Linked DNA regions of Homo sapiens: region 1 is linked to region 2. The links come from fine-mapping of genetic effects on gene expression. A gene starts in region 2. The other region holds a variant in brackets. All regions are shown on one strand. Distances are from middle to middle. Region 1 overlaps LINC00382 (long intergenic non-protein coding RNA 382). Region 2 holds the start of LINC00382 (long intergenic non-protein coding RNA 382).

Evidence for each region. PIP is the estimated chance that this variant, and not a neighbour inherited with it, causes the effect. A credible set is the group of variants that fine-mapping cannot tell apart.
Region 1: its variant is the best candidate, but not a certain one, in a credible set for the expression of LINC00382 in testis (GTEx, PIP 0.53).

Annotation. Positions count from the first base shown.
Region 1 is chr13:79,913,308-79,918,698 of GRCh38, reverse strand. LINC00382 (long intergenic non-protein coding RNA 382) reads right to left here. Exons shown (of 6, transcript NR_120413.1): 4 at 3,839-3,983; 5 at 2,077-2,165; 6 at 663-1,127. Among named protein-coding and RNA genes, the nearest start is that of LINC00382, 43 kb to the right of the region's middle. The variant C/T (reference allele first, on the strand shown) is at 2,232.
Region 2 is chr13:79,870,031-79,875,421 of GRCh38, reverse strand. It overlaps LINC00382 (long intergenic non-protein coding RNA 382), which reads right to left and starts at 2,836. Exons shown (of 6, transcript NR_120413.1): 1 at 2,726-2,836.

The DNA of each region.
Region 1 (5,391 bases), 43 kb before region 2:
TCCTATAAAATGCATGTTCTGTATTATGTTTGGCACATTTTAGACGATCAATGTGTAATTGTTCAATTGAATTACAATGGATTTGTTTTCCATGAAAATGATAATGGAGAATTTTACAGAACTTGTGATGACCCAATGGCATAAAATAGAGGGCTTATACAAGCTATAAGAACTGGTATGCACTCCAGAAAGGAAGTTAAACTTTTTTTTTTAATGCCACAGTGTTCACCCTTCCAAAGTCAGCCTTAAAAGGAAGAAGTCCAAATTCTCTAACAACTTACTCCACTGAGTTGGGCCTCATTACAAGTCTCTTTAGTGTAATGCATGCATCTACAATCCCATATTAACCTTATTATTTAAATTATTGTAGTAAACCCAATCCTAGGACTTTTCTAAATTTCCAGTATAATCTCTACTATTTTTCATTATTCACTTAAAAAAAAGGAGATTCAATAAGAAGGAAAGGATATAAAACAATCATCTCTGTACCTACTCACTGAAATATAATATGCAGAATTGAAACCCTCTGTTTACCCATCCCTGATCCAATTACTTGCCCTTGATCCTCAGAAGTAACAACTTACTCTGATTTATCCAACTCTTAACCGAAATTTTCTCACCCACCTGTGGCCTAGGAACAAGGAAGAATAACAGAGTCATAGTGAAAATTAGTTTTAGTTTTAATTTTTGCAAAGCACAGACTTAGCAGGGTTACGATGATTTCATGTGTTTTTCAGAAGACACTGGTTCTCTTAACCCTATTGTGGAGATATGCTTACTACTCTTACTGAAATGTTGGCCAAGAAGACACAGACATTGTAGCGGTCTCAAAACCCATGCTTCTCTCATTACACTACGCAACCTAGTCCCCTCTCTTGCACAAGAGGTCTCTAGTGTTCTCTATGCACAGCCAAGTGCAGTTTTCTGCCCTTCTCTAATGCCATGTCTGTGTCCTAAAGAGGAGAGCAAATTTGAAGCTTCATAACAATGACATTCACAACTTCCAGTCACTTCTTTAGAGCTCTGGTCTGTTCCAGAGCAGGGTGTGCACACCCAAGGCAGGAGCAAATTGAGCCATTAGGTGATGGACAAATGGCATTTTAATTCTTATTTAAACGTAGTTTGATCTAAAGCAAAGAAGAAATTGAATATTAATACAAATAGTAGTAGTATATATACAATTCATGAATAAATATACATATATTGAGGGTGCATGCTCAAAAGTTTTTCTTGTAATTTTTAACTGATAAAAGAGAGTAATCAAATATATTTGGAGAGCACAGATCCAAATAATTCATGTTTACTATCTGTGTTACCTGAGGAAAAATAGTTTCAAGACATGTTGTGTGATTTTAATCACATGCAGGTAATACTGATGTAGTTTTATATACATATACATACCAGATTAAAATAAATTATTTACCTCTGTTCCCATAGAAAATGATACAGTTCCTAGAACTTTTAGTTTAGCTGAGTACATATAACTAAATATTCGCTATTCATCAGCTGCACACTCTAGGTCTATTTTGAAAGACATTTTTATTTTATAATACACTTTTAGCTCTAAAAGGTTTTTAATTTGTTTTGTTTGAGAACCAGAGTTTAAAATGTCCAGAAGAGTTTTTCAGTTGAGGATAGTTAAAATTAAAATTGTAAATAGTTACTTATTACTCCAATATTTATTGAGCATCTACTATGATACAGTAATGATACAAAGGTTAAAAAATAAATATTTCGTATTTGCTTTTTTTCAAGTGCTAAGAATAAGTAATGAGCAAAAGATCGTTGGTGGTCCCTATCTTCAAGGAATTTACTAAGAAATATAAAAGTTGAAATAAATTAGAGAAAATCTTTTAAGCAAAGTATGAACAAAGTCATGTAGACTGTGTCTCTTCCATGTCCACCCTACTCTGCTCCTACTTTCAGATTTCCTCTTCTATGAGCACTGCTCAAAACAAACAAATAAACAAAAACCAAACAGATCCCTAGACTTGCTCGTCATTTCCCATATCTCAGGATCACTCAATATTCTCATTCTCCTGACCTTCACCTCCCGTGTCAACTTCTTTATTTTACCTGACCAACTTTATTTGGGTGATATTGAGTTTAATTTGATTGACTAATCCTGGCTCTTCTGAAATTCCTCCCTGGATCCACAGACAGTCCTGAAAAAGGGAGGCCAAGAGCAGGACTTAGGAACCCCAGAGCAGGCTAAAGAGGAAGAATTTTTA[C/T]GAGGTAGGCTTTTGAAGGTGGCATAAATTATTTCACATAGACCAGCTAACTCGGTCAGTTGCATTTGGGAAAGCTTGTGAGTCCCTCTGCTATTGGACATTTTCTTTCATTTTAATGATCCTTAAATTGTTCAAAGTAATTATCATTTTAAATTCATATATTAGGGTCTCTTTAATTGGGAGCCTTTTATAGGGCCACAGCAACTTCCTTTGGATGTATTAAGCTTGCTGTCTTCCCCCACAGCACAAGGCTCTATACAAAGCAAGCACTTATTCTTCCTAGAAACATTTATTGGATACTGCCTCGAACAAGGCACGGTGATAGTGATGTGGAGGACACAAAGATGTACGCACAAAGCAATAACATGCCATTTTGACCAAGAAAATGAGGATTATGTTATCTCCCTCTTACAAACACATGGAAATGTTGTGAGTATTTGGTATCTTAAAAATAAATTTTGGACATTGCTTTCAGCTGCACATCTTGCAGCACTGACAAATATATAGTGTCAATATAATACTATTATGTTTCCATTCCCACATCATCAGTCACAGGCTTATCTGTTTTACATAGTCACAGTTTCAAAGCATTTGGGAGACTTTATGGTGGGTAATGATTTAGGAAGAGATGAGAATAGTTGCACGTTTTGTAAAGAGTTGTGAGTGTATTTACTGGGAATGATGATGATGATCATGATGATAATGATAAGGTCCCCAGCTGTCTGTTGAAGTCCCTTTCTGGGAAACAGCTGGAAACTCATTCTCTAAAGATCGCATCTGGCTTGATTTGCCAGCACTCAAATCCCATTGATCTGGTTCTGTTCTAGCCCTCTGTACTCACAGTTCAAAGAGCAGGGAGGCCTGTAAAGAAATTACTGCCATATTGTTCAATCAGCCACAGTGAGCCATATATACGATTATAATTAGGAACACATTAAGGGAAGCAGCTCAGTGGAGATAAGCTGCCTGACTGCATACGCTTTTTGATGAGGGCTTAGCGCCAATACGAAAAGAAAAAGATTAAATGTTTGTTACCAATCCTTTTGAACTTGTGGCAGAACATGTGGTAAAGTATTTTTGATTCAAATTAAAAGCATCCTAGGATAAAAATAACCCTGTTCTCCCAGGCCATTCCAAGTGAAACCATTTGGAGACTGATTTATTGTATCGCCCTTAACCTCTTTCCACCAGCATGATTAACGTAAGCATTTCTGAATCCCTTATAAGCCTGGACAGGTATTTGTCTTGTTACACATCTGTGGAACAAATGGCAATACAAATTATACACTCAACAGATGTAAGTTTTCAAAGGCCAGGCAAATTTAATTTGACTGTGCATGTAAATGAAAAGTTCATTGAGCTCCAAGGTCAGTGATGTGGGTTGCAGGTAAAGAGGATTGTTGCATCAAACATCACCAAAAGGCCAGGGATTCAGAAACCCTCAAAGGGAGCTTCCTAAGCCAAGCAAAGAAAATATAAGCTGCTGCTGCACCACCAAGGAGACAAGCATAGAGAAGGCTGCAAAAGAAAGGGACAGCTTGACCACTACCATCTCGAAAGCCTTTATACAGTCACTGGAAAGAAAAAAAAAGGCAAGATGACCATACCAAATATTTTAAGCTTCCATGACAAGAGGAAGCATGGTTTAGTGGTTTCTTCTGGAAATGGAGAATAGAAAGTTTGTTCCAGATTTAGTCTCTTCCTTCCTCTGTGGCCTTTGGCAAGACTCTTAGCCTCTCTGTGCCTGTTTAACTGTAAAATTGGGATATTAGTGTTTCCCACTTCACAGGTTTCTAAGGTTTAGTATCTTTCTACAGTGATGTTGACCTGTTTAAAATAATACTACATATTATACATTTCATGAGTCCAGAAAATTTGTAACCACATGAACTTATCTGCCAAAGGAATAATTTAGTTTAAGTTGTTTTTAATTATATCATGTGTTCTTAAAATTTCTGTGAACAGTGAAATTTATTTATTTAGTGGTCCTAAATGCTAATTTAAGAAAACCTCAATTATAATATTTTCTCACAGTGTCTCAGTTTTTCCCCAAGACACACCCACATACACATACACATACACACACACACACACACACACACACACACTTTCCTCATTTCCTCTTCCCATTCTAAATTTTGAGGTGTTTTGGCCTCTCTATAATTTCTCCCTTAGTAAAGTAGATATTGTCAATAGTAGTAACACTAAGCTTCTGAAAGCAATAAAACTAAATAATTAATACCACAAGGAAACACATAATGTCAGAACATAGTTGGTTAAACCAAGGGATAAGACTCTAATATGGTAAAGTGTCTTGTGAATTTCTAAGAGAGGGAAAACTTGCCTAATAACAGTTTTGTACCCCTTTACCACTGAATTCCCTCAGGTCTAGTGTTCTGAAGAAAACAATCTGGGAAAAACAATTTGGGAATAACCTAAAGTGTTTTGATACACCTGTGTTCTTTGAGCAAGACGAGTAAAAGTGAGGCCTTTTAAACAACAAGGAAATTATTTCCAAATGCAAATGTGCTTGATTGAGAATGCATATTTGCCTTTAGAAAGAAGATGAAGGCAAAGGGGATAGGTAGAGTACTCTTTTCTTCTCTTGCTCCCACCGGGAAGAATATGCTGCTATTACTTTTTTTGTTTTGTTTGTGTGCTTTGATTCTTTCCTGTAGAAATAACAAGAATAAAAGTATTTGGTGTAACCTAACTTTCTCTATTGTAAGTCTGTGCTAATTACCAGAAGGTCAAACAAATTGAACCTGTAGTTTATGACAGTTTTATAAATAAACATTTTATGTGTAATTGATCCCTAGTGTTCTTTGAAATGCCAATTAGGAAACTCTTGCTGCTTTATAGCCATTAGTCAGGGAAAGATGGACTGATGACTTCACAGTGGTGTGAGAATAGCTCACTGCCTTACTCCTAAAAGGCAAAGTTAAAAAGGGGCAAGGGACATCTTTCAGGTAAAAGAGGTGTATATGAAAATGAAAATCCAAGAACAACTGTCACAGCTGATAGCTAGGTAGCCACAGCACCCTTCTTGTAAGTGTCTTTGCACTGATTGCTTTGGGGGCCTGCCTTCTCCATTAAACCTTGGAGGTCAGAGATGACATCTTATTCATTTCCTTTTTCCTGGAATGTTCTGTGATGCTTA
Region 2 (5,391 bases):
TGATATTTGTTGAGGAGGAGAATAATGTAACAGGGTTTATTGGTTTGTTGAGCTATACTTATTGAAACACTAAAAATTAAATATTAGTATGAACATCTCTATTTTACAAATTAAAAAAACTGAGGGCACAGATAGACTTGGGACCATGCTGAAGTTGACACAGTTAGGATTCAAACCCAGGTATTTGGGCCCTAAAGCCTTAGCTGTTGACTGCTGGGTGCTAGCACTTTGTCTTTTAGGCCACTAGGATATCTAGCTACAAATAGATTCTGAAGAGCCAAAGGACTGAGTAACACAGCTAGGGAGCAAATTGCAAAAAGGAGTTGAGAAATTCCCTATTCACTCTGTCTCATCTCCTTTCAAAGAAAAATTATTACAATAACACAATTTTATAAATGAAAAATAAATCCCTGCACTATCATGCGGTTTAAAATTGCAGGAGTTTTTTTCAAACATATAATTTAATAAACATGTGGTTTAAAATGTCAGTCTTCCCCATGGCCTGCCCCAGATACGTTAGGCCTGTAAGCCTTGAAAGGATTTCCCCGTGAAGGCAAATTCTAGGTATATGCAACTCTGAGTCATGTGAGCAAGAAACCAGAAATTTATGTTGAATGACAAGATCAGTGTTGGAGGAATGAGCCATGTGCCAAAACTTCATCAGGCTGTGCTACAATAATAGGTGTTTTTGCTCCATGACTCTTATTTAGGAGACTGTCTAATTTTTCTCTGTTTCTTTTTCTTATTATGAAAAACACTGCCCTTCTTCTGGGCTATAGGAAGGTTACTCTAATGTGAAACTCATAGATTTATCCCACTGAGAGACAGCTGTGACTCAACAACACATCGGGTGGTGCCATCTGCCTGGGTAGGCGGCACTATCACAAACAGGCCTGTGAAAGTCACCCTGTCATTTGCTATGATGATGCCACTAAAAACATTATTTTTCCCATCAAATTATCTCCATTTGTGAGTCTTGGACACAATTTTTTCTGATTCTGGAATTAAGATGATTTCTGCTTTTCTTAAATGATTAGTTTGCTTATTCTTTATGTATTGTCAGAAGGACAATTTGGTTTTTAAAAGGAAATAAAGCCTTAAATCACAAGAATAAGGTTAGGAATTTGGAAATTCACTTAACTAGTCAGTGGGGAGAAAAAATAATTCAGGAGACTCTCTTATCTCTGACATAAATCTAGCTCTGTCACACAGAACTCTACACATCAGAAAAGTGATATGCCACGAACATAACATAGAATCCCCCCAAAATAACTTAGCCACATTGCACAAAGTGAGATAGCTAATAGAAGTACAACTATGACTTTTAAAATTATCTTCAAAATTTTCTTCAAAAATCAAAGAAATATAATGGATCTATGGAGTTAAAATATTCTAGTCTGACTTCGTTCACACTCCGTGAAGCCAGCACTCAATAGCAACACACTCACACCAACCTAGGAAGAGTAAATGGAAATCTAAATTATTAACTTGTCCTTAAAAAAGACATACTACTGCATACAATTTTAATAGAGTGGTATTCTGGTAATAGCAGCAAGATTCATACCTTAGAGTAATTTACAAATATATATGAAGAGATATGTACAGAAATATTCATAGCAGCATTGCTTGCAAAAAGAAAAAAATCCTGAAAGTAACCCAAATGCCCAGGAAACTGAATGATTCTATTGTGATTATTCCAACAAATGGAATACCGTACAACAGTAAAAATGGATGAGTTACAACTACACAAGTCAACATGAATGAATTTCAGAATTATAAAGATGAGTGAAAAACTCACCAAAGAATACATTCAATAGACACCATTTGTATAAAGACTGAAAATAACAAAAAATGTTAACCTATGGGCATAAATATATCTGTCATAAGATGATAACCAAAAAACTGATAAAATAGTGTTTGCTCCTGAGCAACACAGAAGGAGATGCAAGCAGAGGCGAAGAGGCATATGTAATAGAAGACATCAACTGCATTGGTAATATATTATTTCTCAAACTGAGTACTCATGTTACTATTCTTGTAACTTCCAGGTCTGCATGTATTATATCACAGAAATGTTCCATAATATAAAAATTGGTTTAACTAACTATCTTGCTTTGGCAGTAACTAGTTGTTCACCAGCCATTTCCTTTGTCTTTCTGAGCACGTTACTGGCCTCCATTTCCCAGCCTTGCTTGCAGTTAGGTGCTGCCCTGTGATGAGTTCTGTACCACGGACCATGGGCAGAAGAGGTACATGCTCTGTCCAGTGCGGCCTACAAAGCTGGCCCTGCACCTGGCATACTGTCTTCTTCCTGCATCTGCTAATCACATGCAAAAAGTCCATTGCAGGACTCTGTGGACTGAGAGGGTGTCAGAGGCTCTGGATAGTGGCAGAACTGCCATCCTCATTTTCACCCAACTGTGCTAAAAGCAAAAAACAAAAGTCAGCGTGATAAGCCACTGAGGGTAGGGGGTTACGGTAGCAGCCAGCTTCCCCTGCCAATACACTTACTATAAAGTGATAATCATTCAGCCTACAGCTTCCAAATGAAATTAAAACTTCAGAATATAAACCAAAATCTGTTCCAGAGAAATAAACTCAATCTCTCTTCAGTGATTAAAAACACCAAGCAAGATTCAAACCTATCTAAGGAAACTGAGGCCAGAAGTTTCCTCTCTTAGAAAACAAACAAATATTATTTGGAATAAAATCAATCCCACTTTACCAAGAAAATAAGATAATTCACAGATCTTAATTCAAGCATTTCTCATATCCAGTTCCAGGCAAGGAGAGAGCCATAATGTACATGCTTGTAACCAAGAGGCCAACCATCCAAACAGAAATGAATAATGGGGTCACAATAGACATTCCACAGAAAGATTCCAGGGAGGGGATAAGTAACTACCTCTTGCACCCATAAACCATAGCTGCAGAATAACATATAGAAGAGAATAATCGGCACAGCTACATTTTGTCAGCCCTTACTTTATGACAAGCATTATTATCATTGGCTGACAAACACAGTTAATTCTTCATAAATAAGATAGTCCTATTATTAGTATTTTACAGATGAGGAAATTGAGGCATAGAGAATGAAGTTCAAGGCTGTCCCAACATGCTATCTTAGACTGCGTTAAAGAGCTAACATGTTATTCTTCCAAAATATGGGATAGTTATTTTTTTTTAAATATAGGTGTTGCAAAGAGGTCGAGGCCTTCTTGAATTCTCTTTTTAAAAAATCAGTAGGCCCATCTGTAAATTACTAACACCGTCAACTGAGAGTAGAAGCAGTAATAAAGCCAAGAGAGAGGATTCAGAAGAGAAGGGGGTTAGAAACAGCTTCTCATCCTCCACCTTTCCTCTTGCTGCTGCTTTTAAAAATCATCAATCTTACTTGGAACGTGTTTCAGAATCCTTTATTTTAAGACAAGAAAAACCATTAACAAACATGTCCTAAATGAGTTCCTACTAGGTGAATAATGTTCCATTATACACAAACAAGGCCTTACTTATAAAACTGGGTCCCCACTTCCAAGTTTCTGCAATGCAGAATAAAACATAAACATGTCAACTACTCCACTGGATCAAACAAAAAAAAATCAATATCCTGTTTTCCTGGACCACAGAACTACTAATTGCCTTTAAGTGGGCAATATATTTCCTTGAAGTAAGATGAGCTAATTACTTTCCTTCTCTTATCAGAAGCCTATGATAATAAAAGAATGGGAAAATGATTCTCCTTGAATTAAGATTGATTTAGGTAGAATATAAAATGTATAACCTGGAGGTAAAATAAAGAAGTGAGGAAAACAAACAATGATCAACAAAGATAAAAAATATTATAAAGTAGGAAAAGATCTAGCAACATTGGAAATAAGTTGAAAATTATCAGAAAAAGTATCTATGGATCTCTGAGAATCTTTCCTTCCCCAGTAATTAAGCTAACACTAGGTGACATTTTGTTTTTTGCCAGACACTGCTATAAACATTATCCATGTATTAACTAATTTAAACAGCCAAGCTAGGTGAGTACTATTTATGTCCCTGTGTTTTAGAATGCGGACCTGTGTTTTAGAACGAGGACCTGTGTTTTAGAATGACCTGGTGCCAGGTCATACAGCTTTTAAGAGACACAATCAATATTTAAAACTGAATCTCCCCTTGCCCAAGCTGAAAAACCGAACATCTCTAAGAAAGTATCCTCTCGTCTCTTTTGGTTCTTTTGCGTAAGTCTTCACATCTTCTAGTGGTCTTAATGAATAATGAAGGTGAAAAGCCCAGGTAAACCTTTAGAGGTAAATCTGAATATGCAGCTTTTGAAGATGCTGTCTAGGGAGAATTCCCCCAAGTATATATGAGGAGAATTATAGCAATAGAGAAGTGAGTGGGATGGAAATCCTACCAGATGGCATAATATTGTTCAGACAGCGTTGACTGGTTTCCTTTGTATCATATGGTGAGACAACATGTGAGTAAGAAAGGGAGGATGCTGGTGTGTGGAGATGATAAAGGGAACAGGAATGAGAAAAGAAAAAAAGATATAATGATTGTTTTACAGTTTCTAGAAGTTTATGCGCCATATTGCAAATAGGAAATGATTATATGAATTCAATATAATTCTTACAAAATAATAAAATTACAAAGGACTAAAGGTATTAACCATTTCAACACGTGATTGATGGAGTTAAGAAATGTAAAACTAGAGTAGGTTAGGCCAGTTGTCTGAGTTATCCAGCTAGTTAATGCCAGAGTCAACAAGAGAAATCCAATTTCCCAACTTGGTTTCTTCCTGCTTTTTTTTTTTATAACCCTGTGCTACAATATCTAATAAACAATGTCAAGTCTTGATCATTAGCATCTACACTTAATTTAATATGAGCAACAGGCCACAGAAGCTTCTATAGGCTTCTAGATTGTTTTCCTCAATCTGTGTGAAGTTGCTAATTATCTGTTGTTAATGAAAACAACCCTGTAAGCAGCTGAAGAAATGGATTGGAAATAGTAGTTTGAAGTCCAGTAAAGAAACACAGGTGTTGCTGTGTTCAATTAAAGCCTAACAAGAAACTTAGTGGGATAAAAGGGTGGGAGGTGGAACAGGAAAAGGGAAAAATGACATCATCCTCTGCTGGAACTGTTGGAGAAAGGAGAAAAGCCAGAAAATAGCTTACTAAGCACTTCCTAATAAGGAATTTGTAAAGCTGAAGATTTGCAGGACTAACTTTTGTCCACAAAACAATTTACATTTCAAAAAACTAATTTGTGAAAAGATTTTCTTTTAAAAACAGTAGAAAGTCATAGTGGTCAAAGTTAAAGCAAAGACTAGATTTTGAAGCAGGCAATAAATTATAAATTGAGGGGTTGTTTTTGTTTTTGTGGAGGGCAAGGCGGGGG